Regions from separate parts of the Homo sapiens genome. Here region 2 is linked to region 1. The links come from fine-mapping of genetic effects on gene expression. A gene starts in region 1. The other region holds a variant in brackets. All regions are shown on one strand. Distances are between the middles of the regions. Region 1 holds the start of INPP4B (inositol polyphosphate-4-phosphatase type II B). Region 2 overlaps INPP4B (inositol polyphosphate-4-phosphatase type II B).

Region 1 (12,117 bases):
TTATCCCTAGTTTTACAGATAAGGAAACAGAGACTCAGAAATTTTAAGGCACTTATGAAAGGTCACACAGCTGGTGAATGTGACACCATGAATGGAGCCCTAATTTGTCCAATTCTGAAGCACGAATTTTGCCTTGATGAACAAATGAAGGAGAGGAGTCTCCAGAGATACAGGTTTAACTAAGAGGTTCTAGTTTCTCCTGACATCTGACCAATTCTTCTGACTTGCTCTGGTGATTACAGTTGGTCTATTTCAGCCAAAATCAGGTCACCAGGAGATGGCAGAGCTGGATTATACCAAGAAAAAGAGACCCAGGATGGTATTTTGACAAGATGATTAGATATAGAGAAAGTTTTGAAAATAGGTGAGAAGAATCTATTTATGTCTTTAAGTGTGGAAGATAAGATAGAGACATTGATGAAGAAAATTAACAAAATATTCAGAGGTAAGATGCTCACTTCTGGAAAGAGCGAGTGGCTCTCATCAATCTCTCTGATTACCACAAACATTTCCTAAAATGTGTCTGATATATAAGGTTCTTTTCCATTTTATGCTTTTAGTGACATAATTAGGTAATAAAAAAGTGTTTGGATGAAAATAGGGAGAGTAACAAAAATAATTAATTCAGATGCTTTCTTTTTTGAAGACTTCTGTTAAAAAAAGCTTCCTACTTCTTGAAATGAAGCAGCATAATACTGTCACCTTCAATCCCCCTAAATTTGAATATAGCTATCTTTACCTAATGCTTTTCTATAATTTTTCATTTGTGATTTTATTCTTTTGCCGGCATTTGCTAAACATAATCATGTAAGCTATTATGTTGTAACTTACAGATACTACTCTCTTTAAGAAAATAGCATTTCAGGATCAGATGCGGTGGCTTATGCCTGTAATCCCAGCACTTTGGGAAGGCCGAGGCAGGCAGCATCAGGAGGTCAGGAGATGGAGATCATCCTGGCTAACACGGTGAAACCCCATCTCTACCAAAAATACAAAAAATTAGCTGGGCGTGGTGGTGTGCACCTGTAGTCCCAGCTACTCGGGAGGCTGAGGAAAGAGAATGGCGTGAACCTGGGAGGTGGAGCTTGCAGTGAGCTGAGATCGTGCCACTGCACTCCAAACTGGGTGACAGAGCAAGACTCCATCTCAAAAAAAAAAAAAAAAAAAAAAAAAAAAAAAAGAAAATAGCATTTCAAACAATACATCAGTGAGAATTATATATATTAGCAGATTTTTTTTCAGTTAAATATATTTTTCCTACAACCAGATTTAAAGAATCAGATCATCTAGGACAAATATTCTTAATATGGAATCATAGATGCTATTCAGGGGTATCAATGAGCTTCCTGAGAAGATATTAAAACATGAAATATAAAAGGATATCAGTTAAGTTTTTAAACCTTGGGTATAAAAAGTGGAACATAATTTTTCTACCATAAAATTAACTTAATTATAAGCCCCTATTTGTACTCAGAAATAGCAAATTTAATTTAGTTTTCTTAGTTGTATCCAGTAATCTAAACCAAGTCTACCCTGGTTTAAAACTTACTCAGTTTAAGTATTGCTGCCCCTCCCATTTTTCCTTCGCCTTTACTTCCAGGGGAGCTTGTTGGTCCAGGGGAGACTTACACAGCATCATGACACTGGGGGACATGTCTGTCATTTTCTGAAGAGCTGACTTGGCTTCCATTCTAGAGGTGTGAATGAAGATGGCATTACTCTAGTGCATAGCCACTGACTCTTCTGAGGTCATTGCCATGGCAATTGTAGCCACACCTTTATGTTTCCATAGACAGGCCACGCCCTTTCCTTGGCATTTAATCTGGTCGCCCTCCCAGGGGACCTCTTGGTGATTACCTGTCCTGCTGGCTGTCACTCCTGACTAACTTCCAGGCCTCCTATAGCCCAAAGGAACCACAGCCTCTTCCTCATCACTTAGGCAACAAAATCCCAGGGATCATTAGCCCTTTAGGATCTAGATAAGGCATGCTAGCATTTATATTCCCACTTTACACCCTTGCCTTCTTGATACTCCAAGGGGAAAACAGTACAAGTATTTACTCTTGGGTCCTCTTTACAGAAGGGAGAAATTTATATCCAAACTTCACCCCCAGACCCTTTCTGGAGTTTGTTGTAGTGCACATTTGTTATGGGCTGAATCTTGTCCCCCTCAAATTCATATGTTGAAGCCTTAGCACCCAGTATCTCAGAATATGACTGCATTTGGAGATAGGGCCTTTAAAAGACAATTAGATTAAAAGAGGCCATTAGGGCAGGCCCTAATCCAATCTGACTGGTGTCCTTATAAGAGGAGGAAATTTAGACGCACACAGACACCAGGGCTGCAAATGCACACAGGAAAGACCACCTGAGGACACAGCGAGACAGCAACATTTGCAAGCCAAGGAGACAGGCCTCAGAAACCAAACCTGCCTATTCCTCAGCCTTTGACTTACAGCCTCCTGAACTGTGAGAAATACATTTCTATTGTTTAAGCCACCAAACCTGTTGGTAAGAGGTTATGGCATCCCTAGTGGACGAATACAGCATTCCCCACATTATAACTCTCTCCCCTCCTTCTAAGAGCTCAGTCTTCATTTCCTACTACAGCTTATTTAGGACTCATTGGAGCAGGAGCTGGTGAAGAGGGAGCTAGTTCTCTGCATTCACATATGTCCCCCACCCCAACCCATTTTTTGGCTTGTACATACCGGGCATTTTGAAGGTTTTAAGAATCTGGAGTCTTTATTTCATTTGTTCAAATAACAATGACTGGGGGAAGACAAAAGCAATATAAAGTGTTAAGTTCCAGGTCTCAAATAAATATGTCATATAACATCCCATTGTAACTGTGTGTGTGCATGCTCATATTTTTCTGGGAAATGAGTCCACAGCTCTCCTCAAATTCTCCAATGGATTTATGACTGCAAAAATGTTAAGATTCACCACCCTATTATATTTGAAATGTGACTCATTTTCAAATATATGATTTACATACAATTTTACAAATATAACCACTATGCAAAGCGCAAGAGCCACGAATATTTATTTTCAATCAATGTAAAATTCTAGCACACTCATTTGTTTTATTTTAAAAATCTCTTATTTAATTTGCCATGAAAAAAGAAGCTAAAGTAAACTGTCTGTGAAAAACTTGATTTCTTTCTCATACTCACCCAGCCCCATGCCGAGAGATCATAAAATCATACTGCTACTTATACTGGGAACAGCTATCTTCGAGCACTACCAACAGTAAGAGGCATTCCATCTTATTCAATATTCAAACATGCATATGCATTAATACACCATAGACATTATTGCTTTTTTAATATTTCTTTTTCCTACTTTCTTTTGTCTTTTGTGTCAATGTTGATGAAACAACCAGGAATAGGAGATAGTAGTGGTCAGGAATGACCTGTATTCCTTCCCTCATTTTGGGAATTTTCATCCTTTTTCTTCTTCTTCAGCCTCCCACTATAATCTACCTAATTACTACAGTAGGTATGAAAATGTCACTTGATTACCATCCCTGGCCAAGGTTGTTGGCTGGGGTTTGGTAGCTGGAAGAATCACAGTACTTGGAGAATTTGGAACTGGTTCACAAGTTATAAAGTTTAAGAGTCGTTAGCCACCATGCAATTTAGTGCACACCAGAGAAGCAGAGAGTGAGACAATGTATGTGGGGAGAGAGAGAAAGAGGGAGAGAGATACAGAATGGGACAGTTAATGTAGTGGGGGAAAAGAGACAGAGAAAGTTCTAATGGCCTGTCTGTTTCCAGTCATTCCTAGTGCCCAGTTGCATTCTTGTTTTGGGGTTCCATGGGGCAGCCAAGTATCTTTACAATAATTTATCCTTTTTACTTTAGTTCTTATTTCTAACAACATCCCCCTTAATTTAAATACACACAGACATACACACACAATATACACACAAGAGATGATGCTAATGTATACATAACAAAGTTTCTGTAATTTTTAAGTTTTTAAAAATTGAGATGAAAACAAGGACTTACTTTACAAGTTATTGTTAACATAACTGAGTAAGCATTAAAAAACCTATATGATGCTTGGTGCTATATTCTAGAAGAGATTTTGAATAGTGAAGGATCATAAAAGTAGATATGATGTCATATTAATCTCACCTGAGATAAAAATCTAGAGGAACAATGAATCTATGGAGAGAGTGTAGGCTGCTTCACTGCAAAGGCGAGTGTGACACCAACCCTGTAGATCCTGGCTTGATTTTATTGCTTTAGACAGCAAGGTAACTACAGGGAATCACCTTTGACTTCTGGCCCTACAAAGATATTTCAAAAGGAAATGAAAAATATTTTGTCCTTCATTGGCAAATGGAGTTATGTTTTGGGGGTACAAGTCAGCAAAAGTTCAAGGTTTGTAAAAGTGAATGCTGAATGAGTTTATTAAACCACGGAAGCATCTGAATCCTCCAGGCTTATTCAAGGAAAAAGCCACCAAATAACTAAAAAAGGTAAATATCAGGATGATTGATGGATTTTTAAAAATGCCTTGTGGTACATGCATCTGATGGCATCCTGATTCATATTCTCTCTTTTCTGAGAATTCAAACTTCCTACGTGATGTACACAAGTAAGTCACATATTCTTCAGCCGCCCTGTAAAAGGACTTTGTCAGCATGGTCCATGTCTGGACTTTAATTATAATAGGGTCCTCTAAGCATCTCACTTTAAACGTCCATTTCCATAGAATCAGTAACTGCATTTATTTTACAACTCAGTCTTTTAGGAGGTATGGTTTGGTATTTCTGGCATTGCTGCTGTAGTCTTCATAAACACACACACGCACAGACACACACACACACACACTCTTCCACTTAGAGGACAGATATGTTAACCATATTTCCAATTTAGTAGCAAAGCTCTGACATCCTAATGTCCTGATATTATTTCAATCTCTCTCTATTGTGAGAAAAATCAGAAACTGCCCAGTGAGAAAGTTGTATCATCTTTCCAGCAGATCTCTATGAACACGGCTTACCCATTGCTTGGAGATGGGTGTGTTCAGTGCTGCCCCATGGAGGAGAAATCTAACTGTGTGAAGGCTTCTCAAAGCTGATCCACATCTTGACAGGGATTATTTGTTCCTCACTCTCCTATCTCTCTGCATTCAGCTCACTTGGGGTAGAGGCTGAGCATAGGAGAAAAAGCTTGAAGAGAAGCAAAAGGAAGGGCTTCGGGGGCGCCAAGCAGTTTCTGGCCTATAGTGTTTATTATTTGATTCTATAAACATTTATTGAAACTACAGAATATTAGGTATTGTCCCAAGCTCTGGGAGCAGAGTGATGAAAAAAATAAATGAAACGAACAAACAACTCCCCCCACCAAACAAAACAAAACAAAACAAAACAAAACAAACCCAAAGTCCCTGTCCTCATTGGCAAGGCTTATAATGTGGTGGTCAAAGGTTTGAGGAGTGAAAGGATGCCTAGATGCGGGCAGTGACAGCAGGGGTGACAGCTGGGGGTACATACAGCTTCCTGGTTTGTGAAACTGTTAAGCCCCGACTTAACCCAAATTGATTTCACTGTCCTGACTTTGAGATTCCAGTCTTTTTGCATGGCAAATGTAACACTTGTGTACAAGCATTCGTACACTGCTTTACTTAAAATGTGATTTTAAAGCGCCCTCAGGGAGAAGGGCTGGGGTGTCTTGATGGGCTGGCTCTGGGCACCTTTACCTTTGAACGGCTCCATCAAAACCTTTCCGAGAGAGCCGCCAGGTGGCACCTGTAAAGCGCAGATGGGGAGAGTCATTTGCCCCACACCCTACACAGCCCGGAATAACCAGGGTGCGTGCTTTCCCCTGTGGGCTTGTTAGGGGCTAGGAAGTGGGGGAGTTTTAGTCTCCGTCCAGACTGCTTGCTTACATACCCCGTTTTCCTGATACCCCAACACATTCAGGGCGGATTTGTCCCCACGCACCCGGGATATCAAAGGCATGTCATACGCTAGTTGGGAGCATCTCGGCCTCAGTCACCCGCCGCGACGTGGGAACTGGCGGTGGGTGGCCGAGGGCTGCTCTAAGCTGGTCTCCTCAGCCCGACCTCTGCCCGGGGCAAGGGGGAGGAGGGGCAAGAGACAGGGGTCCCAGCGCGGCTGCAGACTGGGGTCCAGCAGGCGTGAATGGATGCCTAGACGCAGGCAGTGACAGCAGGGATCCCAAGCCCCTTCCAAAAACCCTCGGTCTAGGGACTGCGCTGCCATAGGCCGGGGTCTGGGGCGCTTTCTTCCTCCCGCGGGTTCTTTCTCTGTGGTTTCTCCTGCCCCCGCAGCAGCGTGGCGGCCTCGGGTCCCCCCTCGTCGCGGTAGCGGTGATCCCACAGCCCAGTCTGGGTGGGCGACCCAGCGGGCAGAGGGGCCGCAGAAAGGGGTCGGGGTACGGGGTGTGAGCACACGGAGCCAGCGTGGTAATTTCGGGGTGGGCAGCCGGGCCACCATCTCCGCTCTATCAGTAGCGGGAAGCGAGCAGCGCCAGTTGCGCGACTGTCGCTGCCACGGCCGCCTCTACTCGGTCGCTGGTGACATTGGGAGGAGACCGCTTGGAGAGAGCAGAGGAGGAGGAAGAGGAGCGGGGAGGGTGGGGGTTGGGGTGGAAGAAAGTAGCAATTGTGCCAGGGGGCGTGTGAGCAGCCGGAGAGCCAGCCGCGCTGGTGACAACTTCTCTGGGGCGCGCGCGGGGCTGGTAGGCGAGGAGCGAGCAGGGAGCGCGGCCGAAGCCAGAGGCTGGGGGAGCTGCTGGAGCCTCGCGAAGCCGCGGCCGGCGCCCTGCGCCGTCGCCGCCGCCTGCTAGTTTCCTCCGGGTTCTCAGCCCCGGGTACTGAGGCTTCGGTCTATAAATAGCAGGTTACAGCTCCTCCTGGGCGCGCACACGCTCACACGCTCGCAAGCGAACGCAGGAAAGTCAGGCTAAAAGTGTCTGCTGCTGCTGCCGCCCCCCACTCCGCCTCCGGGAGAGGTAATTACCCGCCTGGGATCCTAGGGCTCGGTGGGGGAATTTTGCAGGGTGGGGTGGTTGATGGTGGGTAATCCGGGAGGCGAGGGAGCGTGTCTGAGAGCGTGGCGGCACGTCTTGGAGGGGGGAGCCTGTCTGTTTTGCATCAAGTTTCTCCGTCTTGCAGCCTCCATCACCCCTCCAGCTCTTTAGCTTAAAGGGTGGGGTGGGCTGTCTCTCCTCGGCTGCTGGGGTACCCCTGTCACCGCGCCTACCCTCTCGCCGAGCGCCCCTCTGCCCGGCGCGCGCGCGTTTTCGCATTCTCACTCACACACGCACACTCTCCGGGCCCCCGTGGAACTCTGAGCTCTGGCCTCGCTGACCTTCCAAGGCTGCGCCCACCTGCGCTGTCCCTGAGAGACGCTGAGGTTGGCCCGGGCACTCGCTCTCACTTCCAATCCTGATGATCGCAAGCTGCCGCCGCCGCCGCCGCCGCCGCCGCCGGCCTGGGAAGAAGTCCTTAAGGAATAGAGGCAGTGGTGGGGAGTGAGGGTGACTGATGTTGGTGGTCCCGGTTGCCTTGTTTTTTGTTTTAAAAATAAAGAGCCCATCTCCTTGACCACCTTCATCCCACCCTCAACAACTCATTCTGGCAGAGAAGCCTGGCATGTCTTCTCTCGGCCATCAGGCAGCATCTCTTGTCCTTCCCCAAAGAGGTCTCGCTGAGAGGTTAGGGCCTTGGCGCAAGAGTGCCTGGGTTTGGACGGGGGAGGTCATTGTTTCGGGTCTGAGAACTATGCTGCAGGCTCCTCAAGCTCTCTGGCGCTCAGGCAGGGCCCAGGGCCGGGGAATGTCTGGGAGCCTGGTTCCTGAATGTAGTTTCAGGCTGGTAGCTGATATGAAGATGAGGATGCTAGAACCACATATACCTGTTTTTCCCCCTCCCCACGCTTCTGAATTCTCCCTTCCTTGGGGGCAGTAGTTTCTGCTCCTGGGGAGTCGGTGGAGAGGGGCCCAGCAGTTTCTCTTTGGGGACAAGAGGGTGAGGAAGCACATATTGATTAGGTTGTTGCTGCTGCTGCACAAAACTTACTGGAAAAACCCGGTAGGGTTTTCTATTACTCTTGTTTTAAGGATGTAAATTTACTCCTTTTCCTCTTTTATCTTCTCCCTAACCAGAACTAGTTTTCCTTTCTCTTTCTGGAATGTTATTTGAGGTCATTATATTTTATGACTCCAGATGTTACATTTTGCATATCTCCTTCCTGTCAGTATGACAGACAGAACTTGTTTATAAAGGTGTGGCTCTGTAAGTAAAAGCCTAAAGACAGAGGATAAATTCATCTTCTCTCTCTCAAGATGAGCTCCAGATAGTTCTTTTATAGGTGTACAACTACATTTCAAAGACCTTGCTTGAAAAAGGACTTTTCTTAATGAGTTCTGGACCAGAAATGGTAGTAATCTGACTCAATGATAAAGCAGCGCATAAGGTGCAAGGAATCATCAACAGGGCAGCTGGCTGATGATGTGTAAGAAGTTGAGTAAAGCAAGGACTGGGCAAGTGGGCATTGTCAGTTCACATACTATGCACAGAAATGCATCCTCTCCTTTACGCATTGATGCACATACATGCATTATGTGTTCCTTTGTGATATAATCCTGTAAAGCATTGATAGGAAATGATCAATAGTTTTGTGAAAGGTACATGGGCATTGAAGGTTGAACCTCGTGAATTTGTAGTAATGTAAAATGCTATTGCAAAATGGATTGCTTTTTCAGTGTATTTCCTTAAAATGTGATGTAGAAGATTGTCCTTGAAAGGTTATGAAATGTGTGTGTGAAGATAGGCTAAATGCTCAGTGACATTAAGAAACATGTTTGCAGATTGAAATACTGCTCTTATTCTAGGAGAGTATTCTCTTTGATTAAGCAAATCAATATTTATTTGTGATAAAATAATGATCACTATGATGTGCATATTTATAACTCAAATTTGCTTTTGACTCTTTATAAAGTGTAAGAACAACCAGATAGACCATTTAGTCTTGTCCCTCTATTTAAAGTAGCATGCAGTCAAAGGTATAGGCAGAAAATACTTTTAAAATGTTGTGTTTGAGCTTCAGTTTGGGGCTGCAAATTGAATGACTTCATGTCTCATAAGATTTTTGTCAAAATACTAAATCGCTCTACTATCATAGACCATCAGTTAAACTTGATTATAAAATAATGCTATTATATTTTAGTTGTGTGAAATGGAAAATCATTAAGCTTAGGGAAAAGCCAGATATTTGTTCTAAATTGTGCAAATTGAAAGTAATTAATTCCTTTCTGAAACCTTGGAGCATCTTCTAGTATAAGTACTATAAATCCCCAGATGGGTAACAAAGTTAACTTTCACTACCTTGAGGGAGAACCCAAGATGACAATTCTCTGAAAGACAGAAAAAAAACCTGCTAACTGATCTTAAAACTCATAGCAACCAAATGAGTGGCAGTTTCTAGGTAAGTATTTGACATCTGAGAACAAAAAGTTAAGAAATTATGGAATCATAATTAGTGAGTAAAATGCTTACTGAATATCTATTACATTTTCTTATTTCATACTGAGTGATGCCCAGTAGTACTAATATTAGATATACAAATATCATACCTAATCTGTACAAAATAAATTTTTGTCTTTCACAACTATGGGGATTTTAATAGATAGAAATGCCCTGTTTTAAATAATCTCAAGTTAAATGTTCAGGTGAAAGCTGTGTGAGTCTCTTCTGTATTATGTACCTTAGTTTTTCAACATGTCCTGTATATCTTTCTAAAGCCTTAAGGAATCTTTTCCATAGGCCACTTTGTTAATACTTTTAAAAAATGTTGAGCTAGAAACCTTTGATTAGAGAGCTCTTTAGAGCATACTCTAATCATATATACTATAATATTTAGGCTTCAGAAATGAGATTATTAAATAATTTTAGTTTAAACATTTATTTTTAGATGAATCCAAGTGATGATGCTATGATTGAATTTTGTTGTGCAAGATACATGTAGTCTTTGTGTTCTAAAACTTTAGAGCAGTATATACCTAGAAAAGATCAGTATATACCTAGAAAAGACATTAAGATATGTGCAAAAATTTTAATTACTCTTTCAGTCTCAGGCACAATGGTCACTTGAATCAAACTGTGTTAGTTTATTTTTTTAAATATATTTTCACTACCTTGTAGATTAAAAGAAACATTTAAAATGTTTAGGAAATTTTATGGACTACATTATATATAATTTATATATGTATATTTATATATATCCAGTATATTATATATAGTATATATATTATTATATATAAATATATAATAATCATATATATTTATATATATCATTATTTATATATATTTTGATATATATGATATATAAATTTATATATATCATACATATTTATATATAATTATATATTTATATATCAGTATATTATGTTAGGATTATTATAGATATATTATATATTATATTAATATTATAATATATTAATATATTATATTTATATATTATATATTATATTAATATATTAATATTATATTATGTTATATATTAACATAATATATTATGTTAGGATTATTATATATAAATATATTATATATTATACATATAATAATACAATAACTATCTTATATATCATATATTATATATTATATATAATAGATATTGTATATATTATAATATAATATATGTAATAGTTTTTTAAATAAGGCACAGTTGTACTCACTATCTTATTTCTTATTTCTTGGAAGTATCTTGCTATCAATGGTATACCATAAGGCCAATGGAATATCTAGGAGCCAGAACTTTAGATTTTTTTCAATGGACTGTGTAATTTCACCAAACATTAGCTATTATAATAGATGTCATTCCAGCATGATGTGAATTGGGTTTCAATACAGTATATGTCCTTAAATAATATATTTCAAACTGAGTTTCTTGAGTTGCAGTATTTTGAGTAAATTCTATCTTCTGTATTAGGCAGCCATGCCAACTTGGTGTCCTGATTTTAAATAGCCCTATGAAGAACTAAGTGAAATAGAATTGGCAGTAATTTGTTTAAACTGATTAAAGGAAATTTTGAGAAGTTTTTCAAATCATGTGGTTTTGGTTATACATTTCTTTGGGAATTATCTAAATCAATAATATTCAAGGGAATGAAGGCAACATCTCCTCCCTTAAAAGGAGAGCCTGTATCTATCTATCTGTCTATCGATCTATCTATCAATCTATCTATCTGTGTCTATCTATCTATCTTTACATACTCTTCTGGTTATGAAAATAAAGCAATACAAAAAACAATGGTGAAATTACTCAATTGTTTTTCTTTGTTGTTTTACAAGGATAGAAAAGTTTGCGAGATACACAGACAACTTTAATTGTCATGCTGACTTCTAATGATTGGAGTAACAGCATCAATGTAAAGCATCTTCCAAGATCAAAAGAAAAATATGATTTTTAAAAATTTTCATTTACTAGTTGTTTATAATAGATCATTTATTTATATATTTTAAATAGCTTTGAAGGAGAACTTCGAGATTTTTATGTTTCTCAAAAGAGAGTGTGAGTTTTTAAATGTTAAGCAACAATGATTTACAAGGAATCCTCTTAATATTTTTTACTATGAAAAATTTGACAGAAATATGAGCCTTTCACCTTTCACCTTAGTTCTTAGAATAGATAGTTGTAGTGCATTAAGTAGATCAGACTTGGGGACTACCATTTTAGAATACAATGAATTAAATAGAATATACTCCCTGACCATCAATAGCAATCTTTCCTTTAGTTCTTTCAAAATGGTTCTCATTCATTTTCATGGGGCTTTGCTTTCTTAGCCAAAAGATCAGAGATGAGCTCTTGCCATTAGAACAACCAAAACACAAAAACTATTCAATGCTGGGAAAATAAAAAATAAAGTAGGACTAAAACCAGTGGGATCTTTAATTGAAGTTAGAACCTATAGGTGCATGGAGATTATGGTTATCTCCAAGGAAGCTTTAAAGTACTGTTAGTGATCAGTTAACACTCTATGATGTCTTTTTCAACATCTTCTTATGCGAAACTTGCTAGATAACCACATATTCCACTTAGAGATTAGCATACATCACATTCATAAGAGAATAGCT
Region 2 (12,117 bases), 140 kb after region 1:
TCACTCATTCTTTTAATAAATATTATTAGTCTTTTTCTATGGGCCACTGATTCTAGATGCTGGGAATATAGCAGTCTACAAAACAGAAATTACTGTGGTGCTCAATCTTATGATCCAGTTAAAGAAGACAGGCAGTAAACAAATAAGTATAAAGTATTCTATAAAGGGGCTATGGAGAAAAATAAAGCTGGAAAGGGGGTCAGAGTACGTTGTGGTGGGTCTGGAGTTATATATTTAAATAGGGAGGCCTGGGAGGCCTCTCTGAGAAGATTCTATTTGAGCAAAGACTGGAAGGAGGTCATAGGACCAAAGAGTGGTTTTGATAAAAGGAATCAAAACCTTTGATCTGACTTTCCTTTCACTAAGGCCATTCTAGCTACTTTTGACAATCAACAGAAGGAAAGATCTAGGCAAGAGACAATAGTAATGGGGCCCAGAAGAGGTGTTGGAAGGGACATGTTGCAGAGATAAAGTTCAATTTTAGTGTATATGGCTTCTCTAAGGCTCATGCTCTCTTCTGCAGAAGTGCCAGGATTTGAAGAGTAGAGTCAGGGAGAGACACCAAGGAACAAAAACTAGAGAGAAATACCAGAGTGATGGGAAGAGAATCATTTGTGTTGTCACAAAAGCAAAGACAGTGCAAGTTTTAACAAGATATGAACAATGTACACCACTGCAGAGAATTCAACTATGAATGTATTATATCTGAAGGAGATACATCAAATTTGACAAATAGAAGTAAATTTGTGGCATTTTCAAGAATAGTTTTAGTGGAGTTACTAAAGCAAAAACAACTGATTGAGATTGGGAAGTAATGAGGTATAGGTGGAGGATATAGATTGCTCATTCATGAAGCTTGGTAGACACAAATAAGTGGCTTTCAATATGTGAAAATAATATTTTGTTACATGAAAACTACTTTTTATATGTGCAGTACACTCATATTTTCCATTCTCCTCTTTATTATCTTTTTAAAAAAATGCTACATTTTATTAAATTGATTTTATAACCCACTCTAGGGTTTTGACTCATGATTTCAAAAACATGATCATATGTAGCAATCAGGGATAAAAGATTGCTTCTTGGAACCATTGTCCACATCCTCTACCATGTTTGTCAGTATCATATCTTGGCCATTTTGTTGAAACTTTCAAAAACATCATCTCTCTCTTACATATACAATTTTTACCCTTCAATGAATAATCACAAACTGGAAATCAATAGGAAAGCTAATCCAAATGTATTCTAGTATCATTAAGACTCAGTATACAGTTAAAGGCATTGGCTGTGCTCATAAATTTATCCTGCCAACAAAAAATATGGGCAAGTTTCCCTACTTTGATTTTATTCTGCCTCTATGACCTCTGAGATGGAGATCCATGGCCTAGAGCAGAAGGAATTAACTATGCTGGAGAGCTTTCATCCCTATTGAGATCTGGAATGGATCCTTCTTGAGCAGTGCTTGGCATATACTAGAGGCTAATACAGATTTGTCAAATAAACAAATAGTATTAAGTAATATATTTTTTGAAAGTCAGAAAACTTGCGTACGCCAATAGAAATGATTATTTCCTCCTGGGCTGTAAATCTATGCTAATGCAATGCTAAAGCTTATAGAACAGTATGAAGAATAAACTTGAAAGGAAATGAGAGGTGGGCAATAGATAGAGGGGGTTACAGATCAAAGGACAATTTCCCCTCTGAGACAAAGCAGGTAATAAGTTGAAAAGAAAGTGTATTAGTCCATTCTTGCATTGCTATAAAGAACTACCTAATACTGGGTAATTAATAAAGGAGGAGGTTTAATTGGCTTATGGTTCCACAGGCTGTACAGGAAGCATGGCCAGGGAGGCCTCAGGAAACTTACACTCATGGTGGGAGGAGAAGAGGAAGGATGTACATCCCAGGAGAAAGAGTGAAGGGGAGGTGCTACATAGTTTTAAACAATCAGATCTCATGAGAACTCACTATTATGAGAACAGCAAGGGGGAAGTCTGCCCCCATGATACAGTCACATCCCACCAGACCCCTCTTCCAACACTGGTGATTACAATTTGACATGAGATTTGGGCAGGGACACAAATCTAAACCATATTATTTCACCTCTGGCCTCTCCTAAGTCTCATGTCCTTCTTACATTTCAAAATGCAACCATCCCTTCTTAACAGTCCCCCAAAGCCTTAACTCATTTCATCATTAACTCAAAAGTCCTCAGTCCAAAGTCTAATCTGAGACAAGGGAAGTCCTTTCCACCTATGAGCCTGTAAAATTAAAAACAAGTTAGTTACTTCTAAGATACAATGGGAGTATAGGCATTGGATAAATGCACTCATTTCAAAAAGAAGAAATCAGCCAAAACAAAGGCACTACAGGCCCCAGGCAAGTCCAAGACCCAGCAAGGCAGTTATTAAATCTTAAAGGTCCAAAATAATCTCATTTGACTCCATGTCTCACATCCAGGGCACTCTGATGCAAGGGATGGGCTCCCAAGGCATTGGTCATCTCTGCCCCTGTGGTTCTGCAGGGTAGAACCACAGTGGAGGGCTAGAAAGCCCCCTCCACTGCTTTCACAGGCTGGTATTGAGTGGCTGCAGCTTTTCTAGGCACACGGTGCAAGCTGTTGGTAGATCTGCTGTTCTGAGGTCTGGAGTAGCCTTCTTCTCACAGCTCTGCTAGGCAGTGCCACAGTGGAGACTCTGTGTGGGGCCTCTCACGCCACATTTACCCTCCATATTGCCCTAGTAGAGATTCTCCATGAGGGGTCCACCCCAGCAGCAGACTTCTGCCTGGACATTCAGGTGTTTCTATACATTCTCTGAAATCTAGGCAGAGGCTCCCAAGCCTCAACTCTTGCCCTCTGTGCACGTGGCTTAACACCATGTGGAAGCCACCAAAGGTTATAGCTTACACCCTCTGGAGCAGCAGCCTGAGATGTATCTGGGGCCCTTTTAGCCACAGGTGGAGCTGGAGTGGCTGGGATGCAGACAGCAGTGTCCTGAGGTTGCACAGGGCAGCAGGGCCCTGGGCCCAGCTCACAGAACCATTCCTCCCTATGGGCCTGTGATGGGAGAGGCTGCCTTGAAGTTTTCTGAAATGCCTTTGAGGCATTTTCCCCATTGTCTGGGCTATTAACATTCCATCTTTACCTATGCAAATTTCTGCAGCTTGCTTGATTTCCTCCCCAGAAAATGGGTCTTTATTTTCTACCACATGGTGAGGCTGCAAATTTTCTAAACTTTTATGCTCTGCTTCCCTTTTTAAAAATAAGTTCCAGTTTCAGATCATCTCTTTGCCTACACATATGAGCATATGTTGTTAGAAGCAGCCAAGCCATATCTTGAATGCTTTGCTGCTTAGAATTTTTTTCCACCAGATACCCAAAACCATCACTCTGAAGTTCAAAGTTCCACAGATCTCTAGGGCAGGGTTACAATGCCTCCAACCTCTTTGCTAACGCATAACAAAAGTGGCCTCTGCTCCATTTCCCAATAAGTTCTCATCTCCATCTGAGAGCACCTTAGCCTGGATTTCATTGTCCGTATCACTATCAGCATTTTGGCCACAATAATTTAACAAGTCTCTAGGGAGTTCCAAACTTTCCTTTATCTTTCTTCTTCTGAGCCCTCTAAACTGTTCCAACCTGTGTCCCTTACCCAGTTCCAAAGGTGCTTCCACATTTTCAGCTATCTTTATAGCAATGCCCAGTTCCTGCTACCAATTTTCTGTATTTGCCTGTTCTTGCATTGCTATAAAGAACTACTTGAGACTGGGTAATTTATAAAGAAAAGAAGTTTACTTGTCTCATGGTTCCACAGGTTGTACAGGAAGCATGGCTGGGGAAACCTCAGGAAACTTACAATCATGGCAGAAGGCCAAGAGGAAGGAGGTACATGTTATGTGGCTAGAGCAGGAGGAAGAGGGTGAAGGGGGAGGTGCTACACACTTTTAAACAAGCAGATCTCATGAGAACTCGCTCACTATCATGAGAACAGAAAGGGGGAAGTCCACCCTCATGATCCAATCACATCCCACCAGGCCCCTCTTCCAACACTGCAGATTACAATTCAACATAAGTGGGACACAAATCCAAACCATATCAGAAAGACATAACTAAGGAGCCTTGATAGAGACAAAATAATTAATGGGATGGCACTGCATTAGGAAAAAAGGTGGGAGCATTCCTCTTAAAGAAGAGAATGGCCACCTCTCGTTTGAGGTTGAGTGGTTCCAATTATACTTAAGTTTGTAGACTGAGAATGGGAAGACAAGGAGGTTATTTACTAATATCTCTGAGTTTCTATATGAATTAGGATCTTCTGCTGAGAGTAAGAGAGTGTATGTCAAGAGTGGTTGAGGATAACAGTGAAGTTTTGGAGAGTAATTGAGTAGAAGAAGATGCTGATCCAGTGCAGGGATTGGTGGACTTGACAGTTTAGTACTTATCTATTCACAACTTACAATTCTGTCTTCTTTCTCATTGGTTTAAAGTTAAGATTATGAATTGATAATTCATAGGAGCCAGACAGATCCCATAGATTTGTTTTGTTTGTTTCCTGTTATTTTAATAAGCCAAGTTTTAAAATGAAGAGCTTCATATGCAAATTTTAGATTTCCAGGTGTAAAGAATAAGCCAGAAGATCTGAAATAATTCACTGGAGTTGAGCAATATTTAGCGTCTTTAGACAAGGCCTGTATTCTCCTTTAAGCTCAGCCCCTTATATTACCCAGCAAATGCATAGTGTATAATGCATATCACTCATTTGTGAGGCTTGTCTGGCCTGTGTAGGTGTATGAATGTGAGATCCCTGCTTTAAACTTCAGCCAATGGGATTTATTTTTGAAGCATGCAGTAAAGCCAAGCTTGCTTGTTTAGCCTTAGCCTAGGATGATTGCAGCTTAATGGATTAGTGGTTTTTAATGTCAGGTCATCAGCTCTGGTGGCTGAGCTCTGGATATTGAGGCATGTTAACAAAACACATGAAACAGATGGATAAGCAAATACATACCCCTAGCCAGACTAGACAAAGGACAGGATGCTCCTTTTCTCTCTATAAGGCCATTAAGCAACCGAACTTATTGACTGATTGATTGATTGATATAGTTTCTCAAAATTGTTATCAAATATCAATCATGAACCAAGTACAAAGGTAAACAACATACATATCCGCCACTCTCTCACAGAGTTTAAAATCCAGAAAGGGAGACAGGCAGCCAAACAAATGTAGCTGTGCTCTGGGTATGCCAAGGTGCTATGCGTATTCACAGCCAAGGTAATGGCCTCGAGGGCTTAGGCCTGACAGTGTTAGCCAGGCAAACAGGAGTGGGAAAGATGTTCAAATGTGGATAATTGCATTTGCAAAGTTTGGAGATGTAAAAGCATGAAGTTTAGGTAGAATGGAAGCAAATTACCTGTCAGTATAACAGGACAGGAGGAAAGGTTGAGGGATGAGGCTGGGAGTGTGGCAGAGGCCAGGCCATGAAGGAGCTGGTGAGTCACCTTAATGGATTTGGATTTTGTCCTCTGTGTAACAGGAGCCACTAAATGGTTTTAATTTGGGAGCTTTATTACATTTCCATTTAGGACAATCACCCAGGTTGCACTGTGGAGAATAGATACCAAGGAGTAAGGCTGGCAGCCTGGAAACACTGTCTAATGCAGTATACTGAGTGCTTAACTATTTGACAGCATTATAACAAAACCTTGTACATTATCTCATTTAATTATTAAGATAATCCTGTGAGACTGGAGTTTATAATAATGCCAGCTGTAAAGATGAAGAGATGAAAGCTTAGAGACATTAATAGATTGTTGAAAGTAGCACCGTGAATGAGTGGCAGAGGTAGGAATCAATCTCTGCCTTAGAGACTCATGCTCGGAACCATTAGGACATATCACCCCAACTGCAGCTTCCCAGAAGCAATATATGATCGAGGGTGGTAGAATGGCTGAAGAGAAGTAATCTACTCTTGGAAATCAGGAGAATATGATTGACTTTGTGTGTGTGTGTGTGTGTGTGTGTGTGTGTGTGTGTGTGTTTGGGGTGGGAATGGGTAGAGAGACTTGGTAGGAAGAGAAGGATGATATGCAGAATTTTTACTGATCAATTAAGTTCATGGCTTCAGTCATTCACTGAGATACACAAAAAAAGGAGAGTCAGTCTGTGGGAGATGATACATTCAGTGAATGTGCAGGATTGAAAGCCCACGCAAGTGTCTGTAGAAGCTGTCCAGCGGAGAAGCACGATCTGGATTG[G/C]CAATAGAGAACCGATGGTCCTGAACATCAAGGTTCCCATCTAATCCAGGGCAGTGGAGGACATTTCCAGGAAATATGTGTAGATTGGAAATAAAATATGACCAGGAAGGAGCAGTAGTTTAAGAACAGTCAGAGGCAAAAAGAGCCAGTAAAAGAGATTGAGAACAAAAGTCTGAGGGAAAACCAGAAAGGGTATGGTGAATTTCAAGGGGATAAAGGCCAATAAGAGTAAACGTTTCTGTAATGCTAAATAAGATAAAAACTGAGAAATGCATTAAATTCAGTGGTTAGTCAAGGGACAAAGTGATGGTTAAGCGGGCACTAATCAGGGAAGGTAGAAGCAAAAGCCAGATTACTGTGACATGAAGGATGGGTGGGGGTGAAAAGTACATACGAAATTGGCATTTATGTCAACAGGTTTGTGAGTGGTAAGAATAAATGCAGTGACTATCAGGAGCAAGGGCTTGAGGGAGAGTTGTTCTTGTCATTTGTTAAGAATAAAGGAATCATCAGCATGTTTACGTGGCAATAGAGAAAAGTGAGTAGAAAAGAACGTGAAAGATGCAGGGAAAAAGAATATGCAAATGATAGCGATCTTTGAGCAATTGGGAAGGATATCGTACAGAGCATTGGAGGGAGATTAATTTTAAATTTAACTTCCCCATGGTAATGGGAGGAATGAGTAAAAAAATGTGTAGAAGCCTGTGAATGTGTAAGTTTTGTGGCAAGAAGTTAAGGGAATCCTGCATAATGAAGGAATTCATTCTGTGAAGTCATAGAGGCCACACATGTCTTGTTTAGACAGGATTTAAATAAAGTTGATGTCTCAAGGGGTAGTTTTACCAAATTATATGTAATTCATATGTCATTGTACTCACCATTATATAACTCAATGCAATTAATTTTTATAGTAAATTCTTGTGGCAGAAGTTCTTTACTGATTTGTTGCTGAAAATTAGCTATCTCAAAATGTTTCCAATACGTTATTTATCAGTCTCACTCTGTGTCTCCCCTCTACCACCTCACCATCATGCCCCAGCTTGTTTTGTTTTGTTTTTAAAAGTTTTCTTCATACATGTTCTGGAACAAGTTCCTGTGGTTTGTTCATTCCGGCCTCCTTATCTTGCCATCCCGTTGCATCCTGTGTTGCTGGTGAGGCCTTGAGTCCTCTGCTCTGTGAAACACAGCTTCTTCTAATAGATATTCCTACCGACACACTCTCATTGGTTTTGGGGAGGTACCACCCCATTTTGCTTCTAAGGTCAGTCCTTGCTCCTGGCTAGTTAAGTGCCAGATTTTGGATACACCATCTCCTTCCACACTTTGAAGGTAATGTTCTCATACTGGGGTGCACCAAATGGTGGAGCTCCAGAAATCAGCCACTCTTCTGAGTTACTAGTCTGGTGCTGCTAGTTCACTTGTTTCCTGAGTTAGCCCCCTTTACCTACTGGAATGCATCTGGTCTTCTTTATGCTCCAGAGTTTGGTACCAATGCATTCTGCCCTCAGAGAGGAGCCCATTTTTATCCCAGGATGAACTAATTCTTTGGGGTACTAATAATTGCAACATTCATTCTTTCAGAAACGATGAGACATGCTGTAGTAAATTAAGCTGCCCCAGAGAAAACAAGCTTTTTATTTATATACCCATAAACATCAAACCCTATGTTCCAAACCTGCTAATTTGTTTAATGGGACTCCCTGGACTCATCACTAAATTTGGGAGCACATTTTTCTTTTATTCTCCTGAAGCTCTTGTTCTCTCTAGCCTTCTTAACAATCTGTTTAAGGCTGGCATTGTCATCTCTGCCCCTCATAATGTTCCTTTAATAGTACTTCTGCCATAATAGTATTGTGACCTAACCATTGAATCTAACTTGCTGCAGAATGTATTATCATTATTGTAAGGTATTTATCTTTTTAAAAATGGAAAACTATTTATTAATTTAAAATTCTGAGATTTCAAATACATACTTGTTATTTGTGAGAAAGTGGCTGTGTTTGGAAGGGCCAATACAACAAGTTGAGGACATTGTGAGAGTTTCATTTACATTAACTAATGGATAAAAATGGCCTTGAAAGACTCACAAAGAGGGCAGGAGAGAGAGTAACAGGTTCTGTACCAAGTTTTTTCACAATCTCTTCCTTTTAATCATTACATATTGTCTTCCTTTGGCAGGTGAGGAAATCGAGCTGATAGAAGTTAAGTAACTTGCACAAAATAACATGGCTACTAAGTTTCTGAGCCAAGCTTAAACTCACATCTTATTAATTCCAGAGCAAGTGCTCTAGATAAACTAGTTTTTCTTCAACATGATAGATATTAGCACTTGTTGATAAAAACATCTTCAATGTTATCTAACTTCAGATGTAGTCAGCAGCAAAATCACTAATGCTATGCAACCAAATTAGGGAAATTTTTTTTTGCAGAAATCAATCTTTATTTAAAAATGTTATAGTTTGTGAACCCAAAGTAAATTCAAAGTTCTTTTTTTTTTTTTTTTTTTTTTTTGAGACGGAGTTTTAATTTTGTTGCTCAGGCTGGAGTGCAATGGCGTGATCTCGGCTCACCGCAACCTCCGCCTCCCAGGTTCAAGTGATTCTCCTGCCTCAGCCTCCCGAGTAGCTGGGATTACAGGCATGCACCACCACGCCCAGCTAATTTTGTATTTCAATTTTAGTAGAGATGGGGTTTCTCCATTGTTGGTCAAGCTGGTCTCGAACTCCCAACCTCAGGTTATCTGCCCGCCTTGGCCTCCCAAATTGCTGGGAGTACAGGCGTGAGCCACCGCGCCTGGCCTCGAAGTTCATGCTTTAAATCATAATCTAGTGAAGAGATTTCTATTTTTATGTTTTTGCAATAAGTAATTAGGCTTTCTGGAATATGCTAAAGACTGGAATAAAGAAGAGTAGATGATTTTTAAGAGGGTCTCATCAACAAGAATTCTGTGAACCACACACAAGAAATCAACTTTACCCAGTGCCTATATGGAGTCTTTTGTGTCCAATTGTAACAAACAATTTGAACTTGAAAGAATGATTTTTTTTTTTTTAAAGAAACTACTAAAGCTTAAAGAGGACAAAGCCATGAAAGCACAGAAAAGATGACAGGGTCTGTGTGTGGGGTTACAAGCCAGGAAAACCTTGTATTGGTAAGACTGCTAACAGATTGCTCAGGCTCCTAACTTAGGCTTGACTTGGCTAAGCTTCAGTGTGAGTGGGAGCCTAACTCTTTCCAGTAGTCTGATTTCACCTAGTTCATTTTGTGTTGAACTCTCATAATATGTAATAAATGTGAGTACATTTTTAGTACTAGTATATATAGTATAGTAGACATCAAAATATCTAGAATATTTGAGTAAATACAAATATTTATTGTGTTCATTCAATTTTGAGAAACTTCTGTAGTTCACCTGTGTAGTCAACCTACCCAAGTGTCTATTTGATAGATGTCTAGAAGGGTTTATCACCTACAGTACCAGATTTTCAGGCTCTCCATAGTCGACTGTGTCCTCTGCACATCAAGGTAGAGGTACTAACTCCTTACTCCTGAGCTTGATTATAAGCAATGGTTCAGGAAGGTATCTAGTAGAAGAAATGGTCTTTCAAACTAGTGTTTAACAAAAAATTCTACAATTTCATATATATTAATATGTATTTGGTGAAATAGAAACAAGCCCAAACTGTTACCAAGACAAATCCCTTTTTCTTTCCATGAAACCTTTTTTTTTTTTTTGGCTGCTCGGTGCTGCTTGTTATTATTTTTCATTTTCAGCATGTATCTGATGATCATGCCAGCCTGATTGCACCAGTTAGAGTGTGGCTGCCCTTGACCTGATTGGATCCATGTGGCATTCCTTTAAGGAGCCTTAGAGTTGACCTTCCTCATTCTCCTGGCTATAATACATCATTTCCACCCTCTGTTTTGGGGCATCTCCTACTGTGGAGAGGCTGGCAGGAGGGAGTACCTACTAACCAGTATGGAGACCAAATGGGTGGGATATCCTCTCCTCTTTGGAACAGTCAGTGGTAATTATGACATACCTTGTTTACCACCTGCACTTTTCTGAAACTTTCAAGTAGAGGCTGCTCCAGGAGTGGCAAGCAGACCAGTTTGCTCTTGCCATATAAACTTTTCTGTGATTCCTACTTTCTTGGGGCTCCATTCCTCCCACCAGTTCCCCAAGACTGGCCTTCTAGCCTTTCATTAATGCTGTTATCTTTCCAATAAATTTTCTTATGGATTAAGGTAGCCAGAGCCTGTTTCTTTTGTTTTTGATCTATAGCCCTGACTGATACATGATCTTAACCATAATGTGTTCTGAGATAATAAATGTTTAAATCATCTGGGTATCAATATTTTATAATATTTTAGGTATAATATTATCTAATAATCCTTGGCCCAGATAGTTTTTATACTGAAAGCTGGTATAAAAATATAAATTCATTTCACTGATGCACAAACACAAAACCACACATAATTTCACAGAAAGGTCATGTGACCTACTTCTAAGAAAAGATTATAATCTGAGATAGGAAAATGCACCTGCTGCAAAAAATAAAAAAAAAATTTCATGCAAATAAGACAGGGCAAAAATGAGTTAAAAATTGGGCAAGTGTACAATGACTAGCTGTTTTCTTAAATAAGATTGCTCTTTTCTTTCCCAAAAGATGGAATGAAGGGGTTAATAGAATTTAGAACAGATACTTTGAAGAAAAGAAGTAATTCTCTATCCTACGATGGAAATAAGTACAATTCTATAGGAATCTGATTGACTGGTTTCATCTTCAATTCCTATAGATTGAGTTGAAGGAATACAAGATACAGCACAAAAAAGAATTATAAAAACCATATTCAACTCAGTACTGTGAATTTATGGAAAAGAGAAGCCATAAAATGTGTCCAACTAGTGCTCTCATTATTTAAGTTAAATTTGGTGCCTTCATTGTAAATAATAAAAAGTTTATTATTACCCATATCCATGTATTGTTCAAATTCCTCATTTATTGTGACACTAGGTTTTTTTTCTCCCTGTTGCGGTTTTAGAAGATACTACTTGGCATCATCAGACTTTTGATAAAGTGATGAGTCCCAAAGCTTGATTGGAATGGTTTCAAGAAAGGATTGGAGAAGAAAATTTGAAAACCATGAGTATAGGCAAATCTAGTAAGATGCTTTACTATACAGGGAGAGAGAGAAAGAGGGTGGTTGCTGAATAAAATTTTTTTGTTTTGTTCTTTTAAGATGGGAGAAGTAATAGATTGTTTGTATGCTGATGAAAAAGAACTGGTGGAGAGGGGAAAACTGTAGAAAAAAAATGCTAAAATGATGCCCTTGAGTAGGCAAGAGGAGTTGAGATTTAGTATAAATTGGAGTTAGTTTTAGACAAATGCATATAGAGTTGACTCACAATGATGGAGAAGAGGCAAGATATACAAGTGCAGATGAGGTTGTTAAAAGGGTCTAGATATTGCATACCTTTTGATGGGAGCTTGCATATCTTCCAGTTGCTTATATTTTCTTACTGAAATAGGAAGCACAGTGTCAGAGAGACATAAAGATGGAGGGGGTGTCAGATGTTTAATAGGAGACAAAAGTATTTAATAGAATTTGAGGTATATGCATGAGTGAATGGATCAGGGATGTATAATATATTTGCCATTGAAGATAAAGATCATGGATATAAAGCAACGCTGGCCAGTATGGTTATGGGATTTTCTCCAGACACATTCAACCACACAGGTAAAAGGACAGAGTAGGTGGAGCTCTGTGATTTACCAAGCTCTGTGATTACCAAGCTCATGATTTTCCCAAGTGAGCATAATGAAGCACAAGAGAGTCATGGTAGTTTGAGGTATAAAGAT

Evidence for each region. PIP is the estimated chance that this variant, and not a neighbour inherited with it, causes the effect.
Region 2: its variant is fine-mapped to the expression of INPP4B in whole blood (TOPMed, PIP 0.97).

The regions. Positions count from the first base shown.
Region 1 is chr4:142,841,084-142,853,200 of GRCh38, reverse strand. INPP4B (inositol polyphosphate-4-phosphatase type II B) reads left to right here and starts at 6,900. Exons shown (of 26, transcript NM_001101669.3): 1 at 6,900-6,992. The region is part of intron 3 of USP38-DT (USP38 divergent transcript); the gene reads left to right. LOC124900788 (a long non-coding RNA gene) reads right to left here and starts at 1,727. Exons shown (of 2, transcript XR_007058286.1): 1 at 1,550-1,727. RefSeq lists an enhancer at 5,557-6,143.
Region 2 is chr4:142,699,378-142,711,494 of GRCh38, reverse strand. The region is part of intron 2 of INPP4B (inositol polyphosphate-4-phosphatase type II B); the gene reads left to right. Among named protein-coding and RNA genes, the nearest start is that of INPP4B, 140 kb to the left of the region's middle. The variant G/C (reference allele first, on the strand shown) is at 6,254.